Linked DNA regions of Homo sapiens: region 2 is linked to region 1. The links come from fine-mapping of genetic effects on gene expression. Tissue or cell type: blood mononuclear cells. Region 1 holds a variant in brackets; the other region holds the start of a gene. All regions are shown on one strand. Distances are from middle to middle.

Region 1 (4,000 bases):
AGAGAATCCAAAGTAAGCAAAAAGGAAACATGAGAGAGAATGTTGGATGGGGTGCGATGTTTTTGGGTTGGTCCAGAAAAGCCTCTGTGGGGAGAGAACACAGGAGTTGGACGGCACTACCGGAAGGAATGGAATGGCTCTGGGAAGATGAGAATGCAGCGCCTTCCCAGTAGGGGGCGCTACCTGTGAAAGAGCTGAGCTGAAAATGAAACTGGCACATGTGAGGCACAACAGATCAGTGTGACTAGAGATTGAAGCAGAACAGACATAGTATAAGGATGAGTATGGTCAGGCCAGAAGATTGATTTTATTCTAAGCAACGTATGTTGGGTTTTACAAGGACAGTGGTGTGATGCGTTTATAACACATGACTCTTGTTAGGAAAGGAGAGAAAAGATTGAGATAAAAAAAAGTAATATAAGTAACATATAAAAATATACAATATATTAAGAAGACAGTGTATGGTGTGTCAGCAGGGAGAAAAAGTAGGAACCCACAGCCCCATTACAAAGGAAAAAAAAAACAAAACAAAAAAACATAAAACTGCTGTCATGACTGAGTAAGCGCTATGTGAAGCACCACGACCCGGATGTTACATATGTTTCTTGTTTCGCTCATGGTAAATCTAGGAGGTCCTATTAATTGTGATGCTTCTCTGACTGAAGTTAGACATTGCTCTTTTATAGGATATGGAGTCAGTGCTGAGGGCATTTGCTGCCAGACCAGAGCACAAGTCCTCTGACAGCACGTTCTTGGTACTCATGTCTCATGGCATCCTAGAGGGAATCTGCGGAACTGCGCATAAAAAGAAAAAACCGGATGTGCTGCTTTATGACACCATCTTCCAGATATTCAACAACCGCAACTGCCTCAGTCTAAAGGACAAACCCAAGGTCATCATTGTCCAGGCCTGCAGAGGTGGTGAGTGCTGAGGCTGAACATCTAACAGTTTTGAAGGTGTATGCAGAGGATTGTGATGTTTGGTTTATATTTAGGGGAAACAATGTTAGACCCCATCCAGTGCAAATAAAGTACATTGAATTATGAAGAAACTCTACCTAAGGGGCTGATATAATGAGAAATTGTCTCATCAGTGGAGAAATTTCTGTACAATTTTATCCACGGTGATAGTGGTGAAGGAAGTGGTGAAGGAGATCATCAGAATCCCTAAATCAAAGTTAAACAGAAATATTCAAACTTTGAAATGGAATCATTTACATGATAGCTTGATTTGTAAATGATTTACAGACATGTTGACATTATGTGGTTTCTGAAGAATTTGCACTTGAAACTGAAGTTATTATGTGATACAAGCACCCTATTTATTCACAATTATTGAAGGGAAAATGAGTTGGGAGTTAAGGAAACTTGAGGGGATTTAAGTCAATCTTCTCTCTCCCTCTTTTTATTCCTGACTTCCAATTACCTCATGACTATTGGGATGTATATTTTGTTTTGTTTCTTTAAGAAAGCAGCAATAATTTAACTGAAAACTGGTAATGACATGATAAATTCACTATTAATTTACACATTGTTGAATGACACTAGAGACAAAGCAAAATGTGTGTGTGTGTTTGCATGTGTGTGGGTCTGTATGTATGTATGAAATTAGTTAGAAAGAACACTGAAAAATAACAAGGTGGGCAATTGTGATAGCCATGCTAAGTGAGGCACATCAGTGTATAAAAAGTTGATGTCTCTTGATCCAACCCAAATGTCCATCAATGATAGATAGACTGGACAAAGAAAATGTGGTACACATATCCCATGGAATACTGTGTAGCCCTAAAAGGAATGAGATCATGTCCTTTGCAGGGACATGAATGAAGCTGGAAGCTATCATCCTCAGCAAATTAACACAGGAATAGAAAACCAAACACCACTTGTTCTCACTTATAAGTGAGGGTTGAACAATGAGAATACATGGACACAGGGAGGGGAATATCACACACCGGGGCCAGTCGGGGGGTGGGCGACAAGGGGAAGGAGAGCCTTAAGACAAATACTTAATGCATGTGGGCTTAAAACCTATATGATAGGTGCAGCAAACCACAATGGTACATGCGTAACTATGTAACAAACCTACACGTTCTGCATTTCTATTCTGGAACTTAAAGTAACATAAAAAAAAAAGAAAGTTGATGTCTCTACAGAAAAACATGGGGAACTCTGGGTCAGAGACTCTCCAGCATCCTTGGCA[C/G]TCATCTCTTCACAGTCATCTGAGAACCTGGAGGCAGATTCTGTTTGCAAGATCCACGAGGAGAAGGACTTCATTGCTTTCTGTTCTTCAACACCACGTATGTGTCTTTTAGTAACAGTCAAAAATTTGGGGGTGCTGAGGCCACCTTTGAATGATTCTATGAAATCAAGATAGGCCCTATGCAACAATGAGCTGAGAGAATGGTGTGTGCTCTCTATATATTTTGCATGATCTTATGTGTGCTGTGAGAATAGATTCCTTCCCCCTCCCACACACACATTTTAAAAAACTGTACTTTTATTATAAGTGTTACACTTTACAGTCAAAGGCATACCAAATATTAAAGCAATACAATACAAGGAACCCCATTCGCCACACACCATGTAAACATAGATGATGGATGCTGTTTTTTTAATAAATCCATTTAACATTTTGAATAGAAGTTTTATGGATCCCAGTACTGGCTGTCTTTCCAAACGATCAACTTCAAGCCCTCTTCTACATATATCCCACTTGATCCTACAAAGAGCAATGTTATTAAGTGTCCAGATAAAAATGTGAATGAGCTTTAAAAAAGGTAAGAAATGTTAGGGTGGAGCTAATTAGGTCTAATTACAGGAAACAGTCGTTTGTATTTCACCTCTAGGTAATCATCCTAAAGGGCTTTCTATTTTACTCTTTCCAAGTTGTAAATTTTCAAGTCTTATTTTTAAACCACTTTATGGAGGCATAGCTGACATATGAAAACTGTACATATTTAATGTATGCAACTCAATAAGTTTGGAGATTAGTACACACCCCTAAAATCATCACCCAAATCTATGCTGTAAACATCTCTCCTCCAAAAGATTCCTCCAGCTCTCTATTTATTATTATCATCATTCTGCAAGGGTGTGATAAGGATAATTTACATAAGATCTACTCTCTGCAAATTTTTAAGTATATAAGACAGTATTATTTACTATTGGCACCATATTATACAGTATTTTTCTATATTTTAATCTTCTATAACTGAAACTTTGGATGTGTTCATCTATTTTGTTTATTTTATGGTGAAAGACATCATGGTGCAATCTGTAAACAATCTTGGAGCCCGACGGTAGTTTTTTGTTGCTTCCTCACTGAACCTAAAAGTTTATTCATCCTTCTGAGCTTCTATTCTTTCCTTTGTAAAGTGAAAGAATTCCAGTTATTTCTCAAGTCCCCTTTTCTAAGCAAAGTGAATGAACATGAGGTCCATAATAAAAAGTTAGTTCCAAGAATCAAAATACAATCACTATGCAATCTCTTGCAATACTTACAAGCTGTCTTTTTTGTTCAACCTTTGCCAGCTTTTCTGTTTCCTCTGTGTGAAACCTAAGTAAATGTTTGGTTATAAGGGATTTCCATAAATCTATCAAGTAAATTCTCAAGCTATGCAAAAACAAAAATATAAACAAAAACATAGTGAAAGTCGTAGCCCAAGGCATACCAGGCTGTATCATCATAGATAACGTGTCCTGGAGAGACCGCACAAGGGGCTCCATCTTCATTACGGAACTCATCACATGCTTCCAGAAATATTCTTGCTGCTGCCACCTAATGGAAATATTTCGGAAGGTAAGCTTCCATTTCCTTTTCTAGTCATTTACTTATTTGCTCAGAAAGAATTTATCATTATTCACTAATCGAATAAAAATGACACAGTTTTTCAGGCAAGCAAAAGTAGTATGGCACCTGATTTCTGTCATTCAGGTGTTTAAAATCTGCTTTAGAGAAAGAAAATGTCAATATATCCCAGAAGAAGAGCAAAGTAAAACA
Region 2 (4,772 bases), 24 kb before region 1:
TTTGAGATTCATCTGATATTGGCCTAGAAGTGGCCGTAAGACTACAAACCCTCACTTTTGGATGTTTCTCTCCTTCACCTCAGCAGGGTATATTTAAACATAGCATGTGGTCTTTCCTTTTAAAATTGTGTATGTTCCCATTGGTGGTATAACTTTATAACTTGCATGTCTTTAACAAAATTCTTTCCTATGTTTTTTTTTTTAATTATTTCTTTTTCTCATAGGAAGTGAAGAGATCCTTCTGTAAAGGTTTTTGGAATTATGTCTGCTGAATAATAAACTTTTTTGAAATAATAAATCTGGTAGAAAAATGAAAACTTGTCCTCATTTTTCTCCCACACTGAAGAAACAGGGACTGGAACTTAGAGTGACTAAGGAATTTAGAGTGTTTGACTTAATCTGTCAGACCCAAACTGGCTATTGGCACCTTTCTTTCCCAGAACTTAAAGTAAAATAAAATATAAAAATTTAAAAAAGAAAATCAGACTTACAAACATAGCAATGTTATTAATTACTTTCTTGAACAAAAATTTATTTTGTGCCATTTTTAAAAAAAGAAAAATCGTTTGCTGGGCTTTCTGCTTTGGGGATGTGATATAAGTTACAGCAGGTATCTGACTTCAAATAATTTAGAGCTCAGCAGGAGAGACGGGGGAAGACAGCTAGTTATGACAGCGACAGTGTAGTGTGATAAAGAACTTTTCCCAAATCCCACAGTTTGCTACTGACAAATCCATGAACTTGCATGTTTCTACCCTTTGCAAAAGTATTTAAGACAAAGTAAGTTTTGAATCAACCCTCAGTAGTTCACAGACTTCTTGAAAAGATAAGACAGCCATCCAAAATGAAGCGCTTGGCAGATGGTGCCTGACACCCTGAAGAAACTCTAGGATGCATGGTGTGCACAGTGAAGTCCTGGCATGGTGCAGAGAAAACGAGTTTGGGGTGAAATCATGCACTCAGGGATGTTAAGATTTAGGGAGGATTCGAAGAACTACCCCTTACTTGCAAATATGTTTTTTTCTAATATTTAACAGATTAAATGAGAGTTAATTTCTGACTTCTTAAACACCTTCATAGTTGAACACATTACAGTCTCTCTCTCTCTCTCTTTTTTTTTTTTTTTACCTTTTATTAACTGTTTCTCTGGGCATATCTCTTCTGTGTTATCATGCATACTCTACTACAACCTGAGACTACATCTGTGATCAGTCTTTGCTCAGAGAATATCAAAAAGGAGAAGTGAATTGCCACCCTAAGTAAAAATTAACTGTTAAAGCAGTTTTAGTCAGTTGAAGAACAGCATTCCAGGAAGTAGATAAGAGGATTCCTTCAGAACTGTCTCCAATCAAAGCGTAAGATGACAGGGAGATGGGGAGGAGAAGACTCCATCATGATTCCTCAGCACAGTTTAAACAAGAAATACATTTATTGAATAAACAATCCTTTCCTTGTTTCTTTTTGCTGTTGTTGTTGACTTTGTTGAGTATCAGTTGGTTATAGGTGTGTGGCTTTATTTTGGGGTTCTCTATTCTGTTCCATTGGGCTTTGTGTCTGTTTTTTTTGTACGAATACCTTGCTGTTGTGGTTACTGTAGACTTCTAGCATAGCTTGAAGTCCAGTAATGTGATGCATCCATCTTTTTGAAAAGCAGTTTGGAGATTTACCAAATAACTAAAAAAAGAACTATCATTTGTCCAAGCATCCCATTACTGACTGAATCCTCAAAGGAAAATGTACTGTTCTATCAAAAAGACATGTGCTTTCAAATGTTTGTCGCAGCACTATTCACTGTAGCCAAAATAATAGAATCAACCCAGGTGTCCATCAATGGTGGATTGGATTTAAAAAAATGTGGTACACTGCTACTATGGAATGTTACACAGCCATAAAAATGAAACCCTGCCCTTTGCAGCAACATGGATGCAACTGGAGGCCATTATTCTAAGCAAATTAATGCAGAAACAGAAAACCAAATATCACATAATCTCACTTGTAAGTTCTAGCTAAATATTGTGTACACATGGACATAAAGACGGGAATAACAGACACAGGGAAATACCAGAGGGAGGAATGAAGGAAGAAGGCAAGAGCCGAAAAACTATGTACTGGGTGCTATTCTCACTACCTAGGTAATAGGTTAAATTGTACTACAAACCTCTGCATCACCTAATATACTCTTGTAACAAACCTGCATATGTACCCCTGAAACTCAAATAAAAATTGAAATGAAAAATAAAGAAACCCAAGATATACAAAATATTTGGTTAATTCTTATGGGAAGATGCAAGGAAACTAGTTAGATTTTACTCATTCAGGACATGTGTTTTTAGACGAGCAGAGGTAGAAAAACTGACAGATCAGAAGAGAGGGATGAATAAAAGAAGATGTGGGGCTATGGAGAGAGAAAAGGAAAAAGAAAACCAGGCTGAGGTTTCAACCCACAAAACAATGTTTTGTCATTTGCATTTTTTTTCCCCAGGGAAGAATCTAGAGTTCAAGAATAGAAAGCCAATTTGCTTACTACAGGGCACTTCCCAATGATGAAACTATAGGTTCCCAGAAGCAACTTCCCATAATCTGTAATCACTTGTCCCCACTCCCTGCAATAAGGAAGTACCTAGTGTATTTTATCTCTGAGTCTGAGGCACTTTCCAGTGCTGTACAAAGAGACAGAGGCTGTTAGCTATGGCTGGTGAGTCTGGGCCCTTTTCTGACTAGCAGCTGGGTACTCAGGTCTTAGAAAAATCTTGATTTATTGCTATGTGACAGGCAGAAATACCAAAAGGGAAATCAACCAATAGTGTGCATGCTGAATCTTTCTCTTATTGGTGGTATGTAGTTTGAATCCTGAGACTGTGTAGAGACACTGAAGGAGAGTATGTTCTCTAGATGTTTTCAAGCCAGAAAAAGGTTAATTCCTTTCTTTCAGCTTCTGGTAATCAAAGAGAGAGTAAGGAAAGACAGAGTAAGTTATTTGTGTGAGAAAACTCCGGAAATTTCTAAATGCACTCTGAAATCTTCTCTGCTTCCTCTTGATTCCAAATTAATCCTCCAGACTATGAACCTTCTCCCCACAATCAGATCTGAGAGCCTCTGTGTTCTCAACGTGTTGTCATCTCTTATCTTGAATTATCTTATTGGTCTGTTTAAAGTGATTGCATTTTTCCACCTTTCTATGTAGTCCTGGTACTAACTCTTATAATGTAATATATCTTAGGTTGCTATCATAGACTTTTAACTGTCTTCCCACTCCCAAAAACTTAACCCTTCAGTCCATACTGCACACTACTTTCAGGCCAACTGTCTTATACACAGAAGCTAAAAAAGCCTATGAGTTGGAGTCCTGGGCTACTTAAGCAGCTCGTATTCCAGCAGGTCATATTGCGTCTTTGGTTTCATTCTCCTCACTGGAAAAAGGAAGAAACTGGAATAGATCAGTGCTTTCTAAACCTTATAACATATATGAATAATCTGCAGTCTTTTTTTTTCTTTAATTTATTTATTTATTATTATTATACTTTAAGTTTTAGGGTACATGTGCACAATGTGCAGGTTAGTTACATATGTATACATGTGACATGCTGGTGGGCTGCACCCACTAACTCGTCATCTAGCATTAGGTATACCTCCCAATGCTATCCCTCCCCCCTCCCCCCACCCCACAACAGGCTCCAGAGTGTGATGTTCCCCTTCCTGTGTCCATGTGTTCTCATTGTTCAGTTCCCACCTATGAGTGAGAATATGCGGTGTTTGGTTTTTTGTTCTTGTGATAGTTTACTGAGAATGATGATTTCCAATTTCATCCATGTCCCTACAAAGGACATGAACTCATCATTTTTTATGGCTGCATAATATTCCATGGTGTATATGTGCCACATTTTCTTAATCCAGTCTATCATTGTTGGACATTTGGGTTGGTTCCAAGTCTTTGCTATTGTGAATAATGCCACAATAAACATACGTGTGCATGTGTCTTTATAGCAGCATGATTTATAGTCCTTTGGGTATATACCCAGTAAAGGGATGGCTGGGTCAAATGGTATTTCTAGTTCTAGATCCCTGTGGAATCGCCACACTGACTTCCACAATGGTTGAACTAGTTTACAGTCCCACCAACAGTGTAAAAGTGTTCCTATTTTTCCACATCCTCTCCAGCACCTGTTGTTTCCTGACTTTTTAATGATTGCCATTCTAACTCGTGTGAGATGGTATCTCATTGTGGTTTTGATTTGCATTTCTCTGATGGCCAGTGATGGTGAGCACTTTTTCATGTGTTTTTTGGCTGCATAAATGTCTTCTTTTGAGAAGTGTCTGTTCATGTCCTTCGCCCACTTTTTGATGGGGTTGTTTGTTTTTTTCTTGTAAATTTGTTTGAGTTCATTGTAGATTCTGGATATTAGCCCTTTGTCAGACGAGTAGGTTGCGAAAATTTTCTCCCATTTTGTAGGTTGCCTGTTCACTCTGACGGTAGTTTCTTTTGCTGTGTAGAAGCTCTTTAGTTTAATTAGATCCCATTTGTCAATTTTGGCTTCTGTTGCCATTGCTTTTGGTGTTTTAGACATGAAGTCCTTGCCCATGCCTATGTCCTGAATGGTAATGTCTAGGTTTTCTTCTAGGGTTTTTATGGTTTTAGGTCTAACTTTTAAGTCTTTAATCCATCTTGAATTAATTTTTGTATAAGGTGTAAGGAAGGGATCCAGTTTCAGCTTTCTACATATGGCTAGCCAGTTTTCCCAGCACCATTTATTAAATAGGGAATCCTTTCCGCA

The links. PIP is the estimated chance that this variant, and not a neighbour inherited with it, causes the effect.
Region 2: it holds the start of CASP5, and the variant in region 1 is fine-mapped to the expression of CASP5 in blood mononuclear cells (TOPMed, PIP 0.98).

What each region holds. Positions count from the first base shown.
Region 1 is chr11:104,997,182-105,001,181 of GRCh38, reverse strand. CASP5 (caspase 5) reads left to right here. Exons shown (of 10, transcript NM_004347.5): 6 at 687-921; 7 at 2,154-2,297; 8 at 3,690-3,799. Among named protein-coding and RNA genes, the nearest start is that of CASP5, 24 kb to the left of the region's middle. RefSeq lists an enhancer at 606-900. The variant C/G (reference allele first, on the strand shown) is at 2,201.
Region 2 is chr11:105,021,053-105,025,824 of GRCh38, reverse strand. It overlaps CASP5 (caspase 5), which reads left to right and starts at 2,657. Exons shown (of 10, transcript NM_004347.5): 1 at 2,657-2,695. The coding sequence starts at 2,689. All of the region lies in intron 1 of LOC124902742 (a long non-coding RNA gene), which reads right to left. CASP1 (caspase 1) reads left to right here. Exons shown (of 9, transcript NM_001257118.3): 9 at 1-317.